Regions from separate parts of the Homo sapiens genome. Here region 2 is linked to region 1. The links come from fine-mapping of genetic effects on gene expression. A gene starts in region 1. The other region holds a variant in brackets. All regions are shown on one strand. Distances are from middle to middle. Region 1 holds the start of BNIP3 (BCL2 interacting protein 3). Region 2 holds the start of PPP2R2D (protein phosphatase 2 regulatory subunit Bdelta).

What was found.
Region 2: its variant is fine-mapped to the expression of BNIP3 in whole blood (INTERVAL, PIP above 0.99).

Annotation. Positions count from the first base shown.
Region 1 is chr10:131,977,341-131,985,666 of GRCh38, forward strand. It overlaps BNIP3 (BCL2 interacting protein 3), which reads right to left and starts at 4,583. Exons shown (of 6, transcript NM_004052.4): 1 at 4,421-4,583. The coding sequence starts at 4,466. RefSeq lists an enhancer at 3,762-4,686 and silencers at 4,094-4,323, 4,554-4,853, 4,904-5,093, 5,134-5,253.
Region 2 is chr10:131,893,898-131,902,223 of GRCh38, forward strand. PPP2R2D (protein phosphatase 2 regulatory subunit Bdelta) reads left to right here and starts at 7,111. Exons shown (of 9, transcript NM_018461.5): 1 at 7,111-7,258; 2 at 7,341-7,433. The coding sequence starts at 7,252. It also overlaps the pseudogene LOC100134362. RefSeq lists an enhancer at 6,371-6,470 and silencers at 6,711-7,220, 7,291-7,690, 7,871-7,920. The variant G/C (reference allele first, on the strand shown) is at 4,363.

The sequences.
Region 1 (8,326 bases):
GGTCAAGACCAAACACATACTGTAATCTATCACACAAGGGGCAGGCTGAAGACAACAGGGAGAGGAAGATGAAGGAGAGACAAGTGTATCTCTGTCATCCTCTGCGCTACTGCAACAGAATCCCACAGACTTAGTGATTTACGAACAGAAACTGATCTCTGTTCTGGAGGCTGGGAAGTCCAAGATCCACGCACCAACATCTGGTGTCGGCTGAGGGCCTTCCTGCCTCATCCCTTCAATGAGGCTACAGAGGGACCCACCTCCCTCCATCCAGCCCCTTAGAGCACTAATCCCATTCACTAGAGAGGAGCCCCTATGGCCGAGCCACCTCTTAAAGGCCCACCTTTTACTACCATCCCACTGGCAACATGGAGGAACACATTCGAACCAAAGCAGTGCTTTTTAAACATCACCCCAGAAAGGACCTAAAAATCCAGGAAACAAGGAAAAAAAACTCACTCCAGATTGTCCATGGCTAATGACTTTGGGCCCAAAAGCTGTATTCCCAGGAATGATTTACTAAGGGACAGGAGTTTTATTATTAACCCACAGCAACCGCGTAGGAAAGGAAGGCACTTCCTGGAGAATGGAGCGTGCTGTGTATCTACTCACGTGTTACAGTTCTCCACTCGGATCGTTCACCTTTTCAAAGAAAGATGGGCTTACAGTAAGGTTGCTTAATAACCTTAGAAAACTTGCTCATAATCACAAGCAGTTTACACTTCAAATCACTGTAGTATAATTAGGCCCCAGACGGAAAGGTGCTGCTGTTGCTGCTGCAAGAAAAGCCCTCCTTCCTAATCTCATTTCGCGTCCCTCTCATGTTCCTCCCCCTCCTCACTCACTTATAATTTACATTGCTAACAAGACACACAGCCAGTAAATCTTACCTCCCTCCTATATCAAGGTAGATGAGATTTTGAAAAGCCTAGACTATAAATATTTATATCACAGTACAAAAAGAAAACTGATAGGTCTGCCTCAGAGACAAAATACAGTCCAACAAGAGTTCTTAATCCATTTCTTATTCTCACTTTGTGTAAAAAAAAAAAAAAAAAATCATCTGACATCCAGCTTTTCTAGGTGCCCAAAGCAGTTCTCCCTCCAGTGACAGACTCCAGGGAATCCCTTCGATTCACTGCCCTCTGTATGTCCCAGGGCAACTCCCTGGGTCCCATTCCTCAACATGGATTCATGGGCCACAGCCACGAGCCCCACGTGGAGTAAACACAGGGCCAAGTTCTCAAGGCCACCCTATGCCCTAACCTGGGGTGACAACCTCAACTCTGGCTATGAAGGGAGAATCACCTGTGGTGTTTTTTCATTGTTCTCCAAAAGCCTAGCCTCAGCCCACTCTGAAAGTGACTATTTGGGATGCTGGGGTGGAATCCAGGCAAATAGATTGAAAAAGCTCTGGGATAAATGTCAGAACAGAGGGAGGCAGCATCCCAGAAAAAAAACCTGAAGCAGAGGAGCTGTGAACCCCCGAGGGAACTAGCACCCCAAAACCATACAAAGGGCTTCTTCCCCAGGGGAGGTGGGCTCTAAGAAATTGCTGTTTTACCTTTAAAGCTTCTCAGGTTAGTGGGGAGAGAACAAAAGAGACCCGCCTGACAAAAGATTTCAAGTATCAAGTCAGCTGGGTAGGTAAATCAGGTCCCTGGCTTCCAACGGGGCTCGTTTCCCTCCACCTTCCTGTTGCCTCCAGGACCTCTGGCCTCCTCTCCTCCAGGACCCTCCAGGGCCTATTGCACGCAGCCTCAGGCATCTGGGCTCCAGGTATCCCACTGCTGCCTCATGCAGAGACCTTGGCTTCTCCTTAAGTGTTGTTGCCAGCCTTATCTTTCACTCCACCTCTAGAACCTCATTGTGACCATCTATGAAATGCAAGTCTTGGACGAGAATCTCGATGTCTGCAACCCCTTCAGGTCTCAAAGCACACAATGCTACAACTCCACTCCAAAATAAGTAGAAAACATCTTTTCCCCTCATACAACTTTGCCCATGGTGAGTTGCCTCTGACAAGAGAGAGAACCATCTGCCAGTTGCAGACACAGCAGTGGGTGAAGAGGTGAGGGCTTGGATTATTAAACACGGCCCTCCAGAGTAAATGGGCATGCACTTTACTGAACTGATGCCCTCCTGGTGAAGACAGTGGGTCCTTCAAGGAAGTGATGCCCCCGCCACCGTGACACGGTCTCGTCACAGAATCCTACCTCTCCTGCATGTTAGCAGTGACATGTCTAGGAGAAAAGGGCCAAGTTCATGGCTACAGTGAGCTATAATGATTGTGCTACTGCACTCCAGCCTGGGGGAGTAAGACTGGGCTTGTAAAAAAAAGGAAAAGGACAAATACGAGCATCCTGCGAGTCAACAACTTTAGCTAGAATGATCAAGAGATAGAAAGGAACAGAATCAGCCCATTTTGCCATTAACTCTTTAGGAAAAGCAGTTGGCCCCAGAGGGTACACTCAGAGGAGAGAGTGCTTGCTGCTTCCATCCGTGGGTCTGGCTGCAAGGCTCCCATTGTTCTCTGTTCCGAGGTCAACAAGGGGCAGTGAAATCGGACAGGCAGAGGTGAGCGCTGCCTGAGCCACCGCTCCGTCCCGGATTTGCAGGCAGCTGGAGCCCGCGGGACCGGCCAACCCCGCCCACGCCGAGCCCACAGTGGCCCCGTCCTGCCGCGCGGACACTCAGGGCGGCCCAAGGAATCGCCTACATGGGATCCACCCCGCGGGTAACTATCTTTTTATAGAATAAACAAAACAGAAAAACAAAAATCTCGTAACTCCGGCGCTGGCCGCCTTGCACTGCCAATGACTCAGCAGCCTGTGTAAGTTACATATTGGAGAGAGGACCGAGCCCCCCGGAGCCCCCTCCACCTCCCAGCGCCCAGATCCCAGCCGGACAGTGAAACGCACAATGTCAGGAGTAACGCGGCTTCACAACCGGAAAATGGGTGATTTTATGGCAAAGAGTTTATAAAAACATCCCTTGGACTTTATTTTATGACAAAAGATAGGAAAACACCTCTTAATCTATTTCAAAATAGTAATTAGCCAATGTTTAAATTTCAAGAGGAAAAATCCGAATTACAGGATTTTAAAGAATATGGTTTTAGGCCAGGCGCGCCTGGTGGCTCAGGCCTATAATCCCAGCACTTTGGGAGGCCGAGGCGGGAGGATCGCTTGAGCCCAGTTCAGACCAGCCTGGGCAACACAGTGAGACCCCGTCTCTTAAAAAAAAAAAAAGGTAAAAAAAAAAAGCTTGTAGTGTTCATATGTATATATATATATTATTCAATATATTACGGTAACTAAGTCCTGCCTAGTAAAATCTTTTTTTTTGTAATAAAATTAGCAACTCACTAAATTTATGTGAATATATGGTTTTAAAAACTCTCAATGAAGATTAAAAGTTCACTGTCAGAGGTTTCAGCAGTCCTTTCCCAAGCTTATTTACATGCTAATTTTGCTTAGTAAACTCTGGCTTCAAAGAACACAAAGGTCAGCTGCCACCAGGTCCCTCCTCCGAGGCTTTGGCCCTAGGGACCCTGGGAAGGCGGCTTCAGTGCCCGCTTCCCTGAGCAAAGGCTCGTCTGGACTCTGACGCGGACCCACCGGGTGGGGTGGGTCTCCACGCCACCCGGCTGTGCGTGGGGCAAGTCCTGCACCCCGGGCCTGCGTTTCCCGCTGCGTGAACGGATGGTCTTGCGAATCTAGCCAAGGGCACACAGCGAGCCTCTACTCGGGCATTAGGCAGGCTGTAACGACTGAGTGCTGCACGGGCAGCGTCCTTTTGCTTGTGTTTTCTTAACCCGTAAGTCATTTAAAGCTTTGTTTTGGAACGACCCTCTAGTGAAATTGGAACATGCCCATTTAATGCCATATTTTAAAAACGCTGTAACCCCCTCCCATCTCCGCGTTCACCCTTGAGGAAATCCTAACAGTCACCATGGATATAAACATTAATAACAAAATTAAAGCTCATAACAGGCCACTTGCCACGCCTTGGTGTTTGGTCATTAAAACCAATACTGGTCTGAACTACAGACCGCGGAGGGCAACGTGGACTTTGAGGCTGTTCGGTCCAACTGCGAGACGCAGATTCACCTCCAGGTGGAATTCTAGCTCGCGCGGAGCTGGAGAATCGGGGCTTTCCCGTGCGGTCCGACCCGGGTCCAAGCCAACCCCCGCCCGAGTGGCGAGGCCGCGAACCCCGGGCAGTACGCGGGGTCCCCACGCCCCGGGCTCCGCATGCCCGCAGGAGGGGTGGGTACGGAAGGGGAGGATGGCGCAGCCTCGCCCGGCCCGCGATGCCCCCTAGGCCTCCCCGGCAACCTCCCCTTGGCGCCCTCTTGGCCTTCCCCAGGCTTCCCCCCCGCGCCCCCTCGGCTCCCGCGCCGCCTCCTCCGCCTCACCCTGCAGGCTCTCCTCCTGCATCCCGGGCGCTCCGTTCTGCGACATGGCGCCAGAGGGCAACTGCGGCGATCGGAGTCCGCGCCGGGCTGCGGGATGTGCTTCAGCTGCGGGCGGTGGGAAAGCGGAGGTCGGAGCGCCGCGGCCCAGCTGCGCTCCCGGACTGAGCGGAGCCCCGCAGCCCGGCCGGAGGAACTCACAGGGCAGGGCGGGGCCGGGCGGATCTGCGGCCGCGTCGCCCATTGGCCGCGACTTGGGGCCTGCGCGTGCGCAGGGGCGTGGGGTGCGTGTGGCACGTGCGGCGCGTGCGCGGGGCGGGTCCTGCGGTGGGCGAGGGGCAGAGGCCTGCGGTGCGCGGGACGCGGGCGGGGAGAGGGGCGGGGCGAGGGGCGCGCAGGCGCGAGGGCGGCAGCGACCGCCTGAGGTGAGCCGGCCCGGGCTGGACGCCGCGGGCCGCGTGACGAGTGGGCTGCGCGGTCGCCGCCGCGGCGGGCGGTGGGCCGGGTTCTCCTTTGAAGGGGCGGTGGGACCGGCGGACTCTCTGGGCACTGGCTACCACGGAGACGCCGCTACGCTTCGGGGCGGGGCCCGTCTTTCCATCCTGCTAGTGGGGAAACTGAGGCGCGGGGCTGGCGGCGTCCGTGCGGGGGGCGTGAGGACGTGCAGGGAAGCGGCCGCTGCGGCTCCGAGACGGCCCGTGGGGTCGGGACCTGCGCCCGGGGCGGGAGCTGCGAGCGGTGGGCCGGAGCTGAGCGTCTCGGGACGGGACCGCGTCCCCGGGTCTTTGCCCGCCCCGCCGGGGCGCCCCTGCGTGAACAGCGGGGCCCGTTGTGTCCGGGGCGTCCGCCCGCAGGAAGAAGCGGAGGCTCGAGCAGAGTCGAAAGAGTCTGCCCGAGGGAGGCGCGGACCCCAGGGGCCCGGGAGAGGCGCGCCGTCCGCCTCTGCGGCAAGGGGCCTCCGGGGTGCAAACGCGGTGTGGGGCGGGCGTCCCCGGGGTGGGACGCCCCGTCCACGGGGCGGAGTGGCGCTTGGTCGGGCCGGGTGGGTGCCCGGCTTCCGTGGGAGCCAGCCTGGCGTGGGGGCCTCGCAGCCTCGGGACTGGGAGGCACTTTTCAGAGGAAAGTCGCTTTCTCATTTCCCGCTTTTGATCAAAAGTCTTTCTTCTTGAAAGCATTGTTGATCCAAATCCAAGTGTCAAGGTGCGCCCCAGAAACGCTGCTTCCCAGACAGTCGTGTCTGGTCTTGCGGGAAAGGAGGAGGCGTCCCGCCAAGGAACCAGGCGCTCAGAAGCTGAACCGGGGTCACAGAGCCGCGAAGCCAGACCTCAGTCGCTGCGTGCATTTCATCCCTGCTCTTGCCTGTTGAATCGTCTCTAGTCTTTGGAGTGCCATGATTTTAGTTTTCTCAGGAGTAACAAACATCCAGAGGCCAGTGTGGGGCGCATGTCTTTCATCTCAGCACTTTGGGAGGCCGAGGCAGGAGGATCGCTGGAGCCCAGGAGTTGGAGACCAGTCTGGGCAATATGGCGAAACGCTTTCTCTCCCCTAAAAAAATACAAAAAACTTAGCTGGGTATGGTGGCACCTGCTGTGGGAGGATTCCTTGAGCCCAGGAGGTAGGGGCTACAGTGAGCCATGATCAGGCCACTACCCTCCAGCCTGGGCAACAGTGTGAGACCCTGTCTCAAAAAAAAAAAAAAAAAAACCGCCAGAGATACATAGCATAGCATTAATAATTTCGATAGTAGAACTGTAGTGCTGGCCAGGCAGTGGTTCTTGTGTGTAATCCCAGCATTTGGGGAGCCCAAGGCAGGAGGGTCACTTGAGCCTGATAGTTCAAGACCAACCTGGCAACACAGAAAGACTCCATCTCTATTAAAACAAAAATGTTACCAAGTACGGTGCACATAAGGATTACAATGAAAAAGAGAATGTGTATGCCAGAATGAAAAACGGAACCTATTCGAGGGAGTCAACTAAAAGTATTACGAAGAAAATCAAATGGAGAATTGTTCAGAATAGTGTAGCCTAGTGGCTTGTACTTTTTCCCATATGAGTTTCTACTTCGTGGAAAGGGTTTATGCACATCAAGAGGTATTTGCCACCATACATAGACTTGCTTGCTCAGCTAATAATCGAAAGCAATGCAGTCGTCCAGTGCAGCCTTAGCCAGTGAGTCAGTAGCTTTTTGTTGGGCTGTGATGGAGGCAGCAGTTTCATCAGCAATATTTCCTGATAGGCCAGATATGCTCGCAGTCATCCCAAGTAAAAGCAAACAAATACTGACTCTAGGTCCACTGGAATACTAAAGAAGGCACTACATAAATGAGTCACAGTGTCTCACTTCCAGCTGCCGAAAGAGGATGGGGCTTTGGTACTACCAGATGTCTGGGGATCACAGTGTTGATGACGGTTCTCAAATCTTGTACAGAATACCAGCTCTTCCCATTCGGCTTCCTTACAAGAAGGATTGGAGTATTACATGCTGGCGCAAGGAATAATTAGACCCCTTTTAATATAGTCTTTTGTTACGGATCTTATTCCTTCATTTGCTTCAGGCCTTAGAGGATATTGTCTGATATTGGGTAAAGGATTAATCAGGTTTACTTCCACTTTAATGAAAGTGGCTGAATATATTTTACTAATGTCGGTGGAAGACTCTGACCATAAGTGGTCTGACAAAGCTTGCCCTAAGCCATCCGTGTCATTAGTGCCAGTTGAAAAAAAAGTTGTTTGATCTGTATTTTTATAATTTCAGTAATTTCTCATTCTGTAGTTTTTCCATTTGCTCCTTCCATTCTAAACCTAAATCCATTTCTTCCTTTTGGGAGAAGGAAAGCATGCATTGTGACGTTCCAACACAAAATGTCTGCCTAAGAGATGTCTGAGAGGTGGGGGAATGAAGAAAAGAATGAGGGCCCTGGGATTCTAAGGGCTTGGACTTGTATCCAGTGATAGGCTGATGAGATAACCCTACCGTTTGTACAGTTCCATTACTCCAAGGAAGGAGACAACTTAAAGTGGACGAAAAGAGTGGCACCAGTGTCTTTGAGGGCATGTGTCTGTTCTTCATTTATGGCAATGTCCATTTCTCCTAAGGCATTAGTAGAAATAGGAACACCTCCCTTCGATCATCAGAGCAATCCTGTTCATCATGTGGGATCCTGGTTTTTCACTGGTCCTGCTGTTAAATTTTCTACAATCTTTTTTGAAATGGCCAGGCTTTTTACAGTAGAAGCAAACAGCCCTTTTGTCATTAGAAGGAGGCCCTGTCTTTTCTTAAAAGGCCTCATTTGGTTAGTCAGTTCTTGTAGTTGCAAATTCATAATCTTTGAGACCTTAGTTTTTTTCTTCCTTCTGAATTGTCTTAGGAAGTTGATCTGCATAGCTTACTAATTTGTGGGTTTGTATATTCACCCGGTTAAGCTGGTATCTTTTTAACTTAGGTAACCAAACCCTCACTTAAGCCACTGAGGAAAGTAGAATTTATGAGGAGTCATTCTAATGATCTTGGAGGCTAACAGGCATTCCAGAATATTATTTAAAGGTTTTTACAAACCCTTCAAAACATCTAAGCAGAGATTTGTCTGACCTTTGAGTACATTGTTGAGTTCTCCTCCAATCTACATTTTTAGGAAAGAACTGGGGCAAGGCATCAGGAAGAGCCTTGGCTAAAGTCCTTATTCAAAAAAGGGGGGCTTTGGAATTGACCGGGAAGGTGGAGCACCAAAGCCCTACCCATCAGCTCTCACACTTTGGCTTGTTGGGTGAATCTCACTGTCCTCTGGGAATTATGTACTTGTTTTCCCCGCACCCAAGGCCATCTCCCACCTGCAGCCTTTTTTTTTTTTTTTTAGAGACGGAGTCTCACTCTGTCACCCAGGCTGGAGTGCGGTGGTGTGATCTCGGC
Region 2 (8,326 bases), 83 kb before region 1:
TTTCTGTTCCTTCATTTCTTCCCATCTTTCTTCCCTTCCTTCAGCATGTGACAAAAATATGAGGATCGGATCTTTTCTGGCAGGAGGAAAGAAGAATGATGGGATGACATCTAACGCCTTGCCGGGCTCCAGCAGTACGAGGCAGCCATGTGTCAAAAGTCAGAGACACAAACCAGCACGTGCCCCTCTAATCACAGAGTCTCAGTGCAGGTCCTCCTGCCATTGCTCTTCCAGCCAGCCCACAAGCCGGGCAGACAGGGTGCCTCCGCCTCCTATTAGCAAGCTTCTAAATGTGGTTTGTTTTCCATGGAAAGATTGCACATCCTACCAATAGGCTACATCTATGATAACACTGAGATTGTTACTAAGTCTGAAATTGAAAATAATCCACATTTGGTATTTTCAAATAATATTTAGTAGTTGAAATCTAAATAAATCAAAATTATTTTAGGCTAGGTGCGGTGGCTCACGCCTGTAATCCCAGCACTTTGGGAGGCCGAGGTAGATGGATCACTTGAGATCAGGAGTTTGAGACCAGCCTGGCCAACATGGTAAAACCCTGTCTCTAATGAAAATACAAAAATTACCTGGACGTGGTGACACACACCTGTAATCCCAGCTGCTTGGGAGGCTGAGGCAGAAGAATCCCTTGAACCTGAGAGGCAGAGGTTGCAGTGAGCCAAGATCGCGCCACTGCACTCCAGCCTGGGCGACGGAGCGAGACTTCGTCTCAAAAAAAATAAAAATTAAAGGCCGGGCCGGTGGCTCACGCCTGTAATCCCAGCACTTTGGGAGGCTGAGAAGGGTGGATCACGAGGTCAGGAGATAGAGACCATCCTGGCCAACATGGTGAAACCCTATCTCTACTAAAAATACAAAAATCAGCTGAGCGTGGTGGTGCACATCTGTAGTTCCCAGCTACTCTGGAGGCTGAGGCAGGAGAATTGCTTAAAGCAAGGAGTCGGAGGTTGCAGTGAGCTGAGATCACGCCATTGCACTCCAGCCTGGCAACAGAGCGAGACTCTGTAAAATAATAATAATAATTTAAAAAAAGAAAATTAAATAAAACATATTTTAAAATAAAGGTATTTGGGGGAAGTGTGATTTGCAGACTCTTAAGATATAAAGTCCTTCATAGACTTGAAGAAAATTTATGGTAAGTTAGACTTTAAAATAATTCATTTGAGCTCTTTCCTTTTGCTGCTGTGGCCGCAGCCATGAGCACGCTCAGGCTTCAGAAGAGGCTCGCTGCTAGTGTCCTCCGCTGTGGGAAGAAGAAGGTCTGGCTGGACCCCAAGGAGACCAATGAACTCGCTAATGCCAACTCCCGTCAGCAGATCTGGAAGCTGATCAAAGATGGGCTGATCATCCCCAAGCCAGTGACTGTCCATTCCAGCTCGATGCCGGAAAAGCACCTTGGCCCGCCGGAAGGGCAGGCACATAGGCATAGGTAAGCAAAAGGGTACAGCCAATGCCCGAATGCCAGAGGAGGTCACGTGGATGAGGAGAATGAGGATTCCGTGCTGGCTGCTCAGAAGATACCGTGAATCGAAGAAGCCTGATCGCCGTATGTATCACAGCCTGTACCTGAAGGTGAAGGGGAATATGTTCACGAACAAGCGGATTCTCATGGAACACAGCCACAGGCTGAAGGCAGACAAGGCCTGCAAGAAGCTCCTGGCTGACTAGGCTGAGGCTCGCAGGTCTAAGACCAAGGAAGCACGCAAGCGCCGTGAAGAGCGCCTCCAAGTCAAGAAGGAGGAGATCTTCAAGACTTTGTCCAAGGAGGAAGATACCAAAAAATAAAAGCTCCCCCGTTGTCCGTACATACTGGCCTCCGTGATTACATAGATCAGCCATTAAAATAAAACAATCCTTTAAAAAAATCTGTTTTATTGAGGTATCATTCACATACAATAAAATGGGTCCACTTTAAGTGTCTTTTTCAATGAGTCTTGACAACCATTCGTGCTGCATTAACAGCTGCGGCCATCAGGATGCAGAACACTTCCATCAACCCAGGGAGTTCTTTCCCACTCTCTCCAGTCCATCCCCCACCCTCTCCAGTCAATCCCCACACTCGTGCCCCATGCCGTTTTTTTTGAGATGGAGTCTTGCTCTGTCACCAGGCTGGAGTGCAGTGGCGCGATCTCGGCTCACTGCAACCTCCGCCTCCCAGGTTAAAGCAATTCTCCTGCCTCAGCCTCCTGAGTAGCTGGGATTACAGGCGTGCGCCACCACACCTGGCTAATTTTTGTGTTTTTAGTAGAGATGGGGTTTCACCATGTTGGTCAGGCTGGTCTCAAACTCCTGACCTTGTGATCTGCCCACCTCGGCCTCCCAAAGTGCTGGGATTACAGGCGTGAGCCACCACGCCCAGCCCCTGTGCCATTTTTAAAATCACTGTAGAGCAGTCTCACCTGTTCTAGAACTTCAGGATTCTTCAGAGAAACCGTGTATGGAATGAGCTTTATTTTCAGGAACTCACTCACACAATTGTGGAGGCTGACAAGTTCAAAAACAGAGGGTGCACAGGGTGAGCAGGGCAGGCCGGCAGGCTAGCTCAGGCAAGGGCTGATACAGCAGCCTGGAGGCAGAATTTGTTCTCCAAGAAACCTCAGTATTTGTTCTGAAGGCCTTTGATTGATTGGATGAGGCTCACTCATATTATCAAGGGTAATCTCCTTTTCTCAAAGTCAACTGCCTGTGGGTGTTAACCACATCCACGAAACACCCTCGTGGCAATACTTGGCTTAGTTCTGATGAAATAACTACATACTATACCCTCGCTACATTGACACATGAGACTAAGTATGATAAAATAAAGGGGCGCATGCAGCTTGCACGCCTCCGTGTCTGGCTCCTTTCATTTTCGTAATATTTCGGGGACTCATTTGGGACTGCTGTTTGTATCAGTAGTAGCTCATGCCTTTTAGTTACTGAACAGTACTGCCTTCTATGATTACAATAGGCTAGATTCTAATACACACCAGGCATTTTCAATTCAGCTGTGAGATCTGAAAAACAATTTTAAAAAATAAAATTGCTGTCAATACTCAGAAACTTGTAAACACCAATTAGAATCCAAACAGAGAAATTCATTGAGCTATTAGGTTGGCGCAAAAGTCATTGTGGTTTAGCCAAATATTTTAAGTTTTTAGCATCATAAGAAGAATAGTTAAAAATCTCTTTTTAAAAAATAGTTAAAAATCTCTTGCTGGTCAGCTGATGCACAGTGGGACGCAGGGAAGGCAGCCCCCCAGTCTCAGGAATATGTTACTTTTGTGGCTATATCTTGTTTTTAGTTTAATTTAATGGGAGCTAATGAACCAGAAAATACATTCTAAACAAAAACTAATTATCTTGTCATCACTTCAAAAGACATATTTAACACACATTAAAGCAGTTACATAGGAACTAAGAATAAAATCCTACATCCCCCACTGGCTGAACGAACACCCCTGTGGCCAGGGGGGGCCCCAGGAAAACCTCAACACTGAGGCTATAATGGGGGATGGGAGGTCAGACAGGCCTCCTGATACCCCCGCCCTTTTGTGGTTTGGACACAACAGACCAGCGTTAACGTTAAACTAGAGACCATAAGACTGACAGAACGGACTCTGTGGCAGTAAGATGCCAAATCATAAACAGGGCCTAAGGCCGTGCGGGGGGAGGGTGAAGCCACGCACCGCACACTTACAGAGAAAACGTCGTTCCCACTGCTGTTGGGTTTTCCTTCCCTCCAGCAGCTAAATAAGCACTGGCCTTGATAGGAGCAACATTAAGCAACTGCAGCTCCACCAGCCACTAAGTGACCCCCAGCCCTGCTCCAGCAGCCGTAACTACAGCTTTCATTGGACAGAAGACTGTAACTGTCTCCTGATAAGAAACCACCGACCTTGGACTGGTTCTGGCCGGTTTACAGAGGTTGCACATCTGCATGCCTTCCTGTCCTGAAAAGACCTCTTGAGGTACAGGGCCTAGTCCTAATTTACTTATTTATTTATTTATTTATTTATTTAGAGACGGAGTCTCGCTCTGTCGCCCAGGCTGGAGTGTAACGGCACGATCTCGGCTCACTGCAACCTCTGCTTCCCAGGTTGGAGGGATTCTCCTGTCTCAGCCTCCCAAGTAGCTAGGACTACAGACATACGGGCGCCACCACGCCCAGCTAATTTTTGTATTTTTAGTAGACAGGGGGTTTCGCCATGTTAGCCAGGCTGATCTCGAACTCCTGACCTCAGGTAACCTGCCAGACTTGGCCTCCCAAAGTGCTGGGATTACAGTCGTAATATATTCAAATGTTTAGTCTCCCCGACAGAGTGAGATTGGGTCCTATGTTACATAATACACGTGTCAGGA[G/C]CCCCTTCCTGAGTATTCATAGCTCCTCCCAAAGCCTGTTGTCTATGTATGTTTAGCCAACCCGTTCAGCATAGAGCTCCTGCCCCAACTCCTCCTCCTACGAAGAGCCATCTCCCATCTTGGCCTGGGGGATGGCCACCTTGCTGGCTGTAACCATTTATAAGAAATAAAGTTCCTCTTTTTCTAAATTTATAAATTGTCAGGTTTTTAAGTTAACAAATAAAAGAGATCTGGTCATTAATTCAGGTTTTCAAGTGTCTTCCTGGGCAGATAGGCTAAATCTACATTTTAAAAACAAGATTACAGCCCCATTTTTCTGCTCTTCTTCTCCTCAACAGAGAAGTAGGTATTCACTGCCTCTAGTTCCTCTCCTGCCACTGTCCCCAGAGCCCTCTGCAAACTTGTGATCTGAGTCCATTCCATAGCCACCGCTCCGTCCAAGTCAGTAATGGCCTCCCAGTCCCTACAACCAAATGGTCACTCCTGTATACTCATCACATAGCATCACAGAGCAGCCACTCCCTCCTGTCTTCAGTGGATCCTGGAGATGGGTTCTCCAGGAGCCCACCTCGCAGGCTGCTCACTCATCCTCCACGTCCTCACCCCTTCAGGGCTCTGTCCTTGGTCCTGTCCCCCATCTGTCCTCCCTCCTGAGGTGACCTCACCCAGTTTCCTGACTTGAAATGACCTCTAAATGCTCTCACCTTGATGCTCTGGCTCTGACTTCCCTGTGTGCTCCCAGCCTGTCTGTGCAACAGCACTATGTGTTGACAGCGAACCTCTGGTCGGGCTGCACCGCCCCCACCCAGCTGTGCCTTCTGCTGCAGAAACTCCATCCTTCCAGGTGCTCAGACCACCCGAGAGCAGGCATTCCTAAGTCCCTGCTTTCTCTCACACCGCATCTTTTCCATCAGCAAATCCCAGGGGCTCTGCTGTCGAAGCACTTTTCTCTGAAATCTGACTGGTTCTCACCACCCCACCCCATGTTCACCACTCTATCCTCATCCCCATGCCTGGTCAGCCCAGCTGGCCACCTGATTGGTCTCCCTGCTTCCCCTCTTTGGGTCCCCACAAGCTATTCTCAGCAGAGCATCCAAAAGCCCAAGTCCATCACGATCGTCTTCTGTTCATGAGCCCATCTCATTCAGAGTCCAAGTCCCCTAAATGGCCTGCCCACTGTCCATCCTCCTCCACTTACCTCCCTGCCTTGACTCCAACCCCTGGCCTCCCCTCCACTCACTCTGCACCCACGCAGCTTCTGGCTGCCTCCTGCCCATGCCAGGCATGGCCCTCCTTCCTGTCCTGGCACTTGGTGGTCTCCCCTTCCTGGCCAAGCTTTCCTAGACGTCTGCATGGTTTGCTCTTTATCCTTGAGTCTTCTCCAGTCACCCCGTGCAAGACTCCAACTCTCCCCATACACATTTCCTTCTTCCCTGATTTTTCTCTCCAGCTCCGACTTATTATGTATTTATTTCCTTATTGTCTGTCTCCCCCACTGAAAGGTAAGCTCTACCAGGGCTGAGATTTCTCTGCTCTGTTAACCTCTCACCCCCAGGGCTGTGGAGTGTGCCGCACGTGGCAGGAGCTGTCAATAAATAATATTAATGGAGTGGACGAATGTTCCTGATTTGCAGCGACTGTCTTTTAGTGGTGCAATACCATCAGTGCCCACCGCAGCTACCCTGAAAGAAGTTCTGATTCCGGACATCAATCCCATAGGGACAGTCCCCCTGATGATAGCTCGACTTCAGATTTTTCAACTTTACGACGGGTAGATTGGGTATTAGATGCATTTTTGACTTAGGAAGGGCTTATTTGCGGGGAGGGTAGCCCCACTGTAAGTCGAGGAGCACCCATGATCGCTCAGTATGCCAGAGAAAACCACCCGCAAATGAAACGATCGGCCCTGTTTCCCTAAGACTGCACTGGGAGCTCCAAGAACCCCTAAGGTAGCCATCTGGTGAGCAACGGTGCGCTCCGAAAGGGAGGTGGACAGGATTGGGAGACCGAGGCCGGCAGATGGCTCGAGCCCAGGAGTTCGAGACCAGCCTGAGCAACATAGACCCCCGTCTCTACAAAAAATTTAAAAATCAGCGAGCCTGGCGGCGCGTGCCTGTGCTCGCAGCTACTTCCGAGGCTGAAGCAGTAGGATGGATTGAGCCCAGGAGGTCGAGGCTTTTAGGGAGTCGAGATCGCGCCCCCGCACTCCAGCCCGGGGAACAGAGCGAGACTCCGCGTCGGGGGCAGTGGGCGGGAGGCAGCGCTCAGGTACGGCGCGCTCAGGTGAGGCCGGCCCACATGCCCGCCCACCGCCGCCAAGCGCGTCCTCCATTGGCGGTTCCACGGAGAACCCACGTTTCCATTGGCCGATGCGGGATGGGGGCGTGTCCGGCCAAGCGGCGCCCTGAAGGCGTGTCCGGCCGCAGCTTAGGCTCTCCGGGAGTCCCCGGAGAGTAGGGGCGGCCGGCGGCGCTAGTCTTCTGGGGAGCGCCGGGTGCACACCGGACCACTGCGGGAGGCCTAGGGCCGAGGGCCGAGGAGCTGGCCTGCGCCCGGCGACCCCGGCTTCCCTCCGCAGTCGCCCAGGCGTCCCTTCCCCCCTACAGCCGAGCGGCGCCGGGCGCAGGCGCATTGGGCGCCCCCGGCAGCCCCCGCGGCCCGCCCCGTCCGCTGCCCGTCCGAGGAGGCGGAGGGCGATGACGTCATCGAGCGGGGCGACGGGCATTGGGCGCCATTTTGAAAAGGGAAAAAAATCCCTCCCCGGCGGCGGCGGCGGCGGCGGCGGCGCCGGCGGTGGTGGCGGCCCCGGGGCTGAGCGCTCGGCTGCAGCGGCGCGGAGGCCGTCTCCCTGGTCTGCCGCGGTCCCCGCCCGTCCCGCCGCCGGCTGCCATGGCAGGTGAGGGGTCTGCGCGGGCCGGCGGGGACCACGGGGGCGGGCGGGGGCCGCGGCCGGCCTGACCGCCCCGTTGTGTTTGCAGGAGCCGGAGGCGGCGGCTGCCCCGCGGGCGGCAACGACTTCCAGTGGTGCTTCTCGCAGGTCAAGGGGGCCATCGACGAGGACGTGGCCGAAGGTGAGCCCCGCGCCGCGCCCCGCCCCGGGACCCTCGCGGACAGCTCCCAGCCCGGCCGCGCGCGGCCTCCGGGCCCCAAGCGTCCGTGGAAGGCAGGCAGGAGGATGGGGGCCGGGCGGGGCAGGGGCCAGGGGCCGAGCTGGGGGCCGTGATCGGGGGGCGGCCGTCCTCTGTCCGCTGTCCCGGCCCGCGGGGCACGGGCGGAGGCGTCGGGCCCGCGGCGGGACTTATGTAAGTCACCAAGGTCACGGGCGGCCGGGTCCTCCGAACCCAGCGCCTGGGGCTGCCTCCTGCCCGGGGCGGAACCGAAGCCCGGGGCTGCCTCCTGCCTGGGGCGGAACTGAGGAGACCGCGGCGGAGCCGGGGACGGGAACGGAGTCCATATCGTGCGCTCGGGCAGCGCGGCACAATGGCCCAGAGGCTGGGAACGCGCCTAGGGCTGGGTCGGGGCCTCGGCCCCCACCAGGCTCTGCGTTTCATCGGCGGTGCGCTCTTGAGCGAGCTGGTTGCCTCGGCTCCCTGATTCTTAAGGTCTGCTTTCTGCGGTTCTAAAATCCTTGAATTTTACTGTGAGGTACTGCTACTTTCTCTACTGATATATTTTAAGGTCTCTATTCCAGATTTTAGTCTTGAACTTCATGGTATTACTTGAAGTTCACTGGTCTTTTCCTTAAATCATACTCTCAAATTGGCCCAGGCACAAAGTTTTAGGGTGGTGGGAGGGAACTGGGAAGTGCCTCCCACCCCAGCTTCCCATGAAGCTTACCTGTCACCTTAAAGTTAAAAAGCTATGTAGCTTTCCTTTTTCACCGTTGAATGGAGAACTTGGTCGAGTCTTAGAAGTTTGATTAATATTTCAGATTCAGAGTCATAGTGACTTTTTTGTTGTTGTT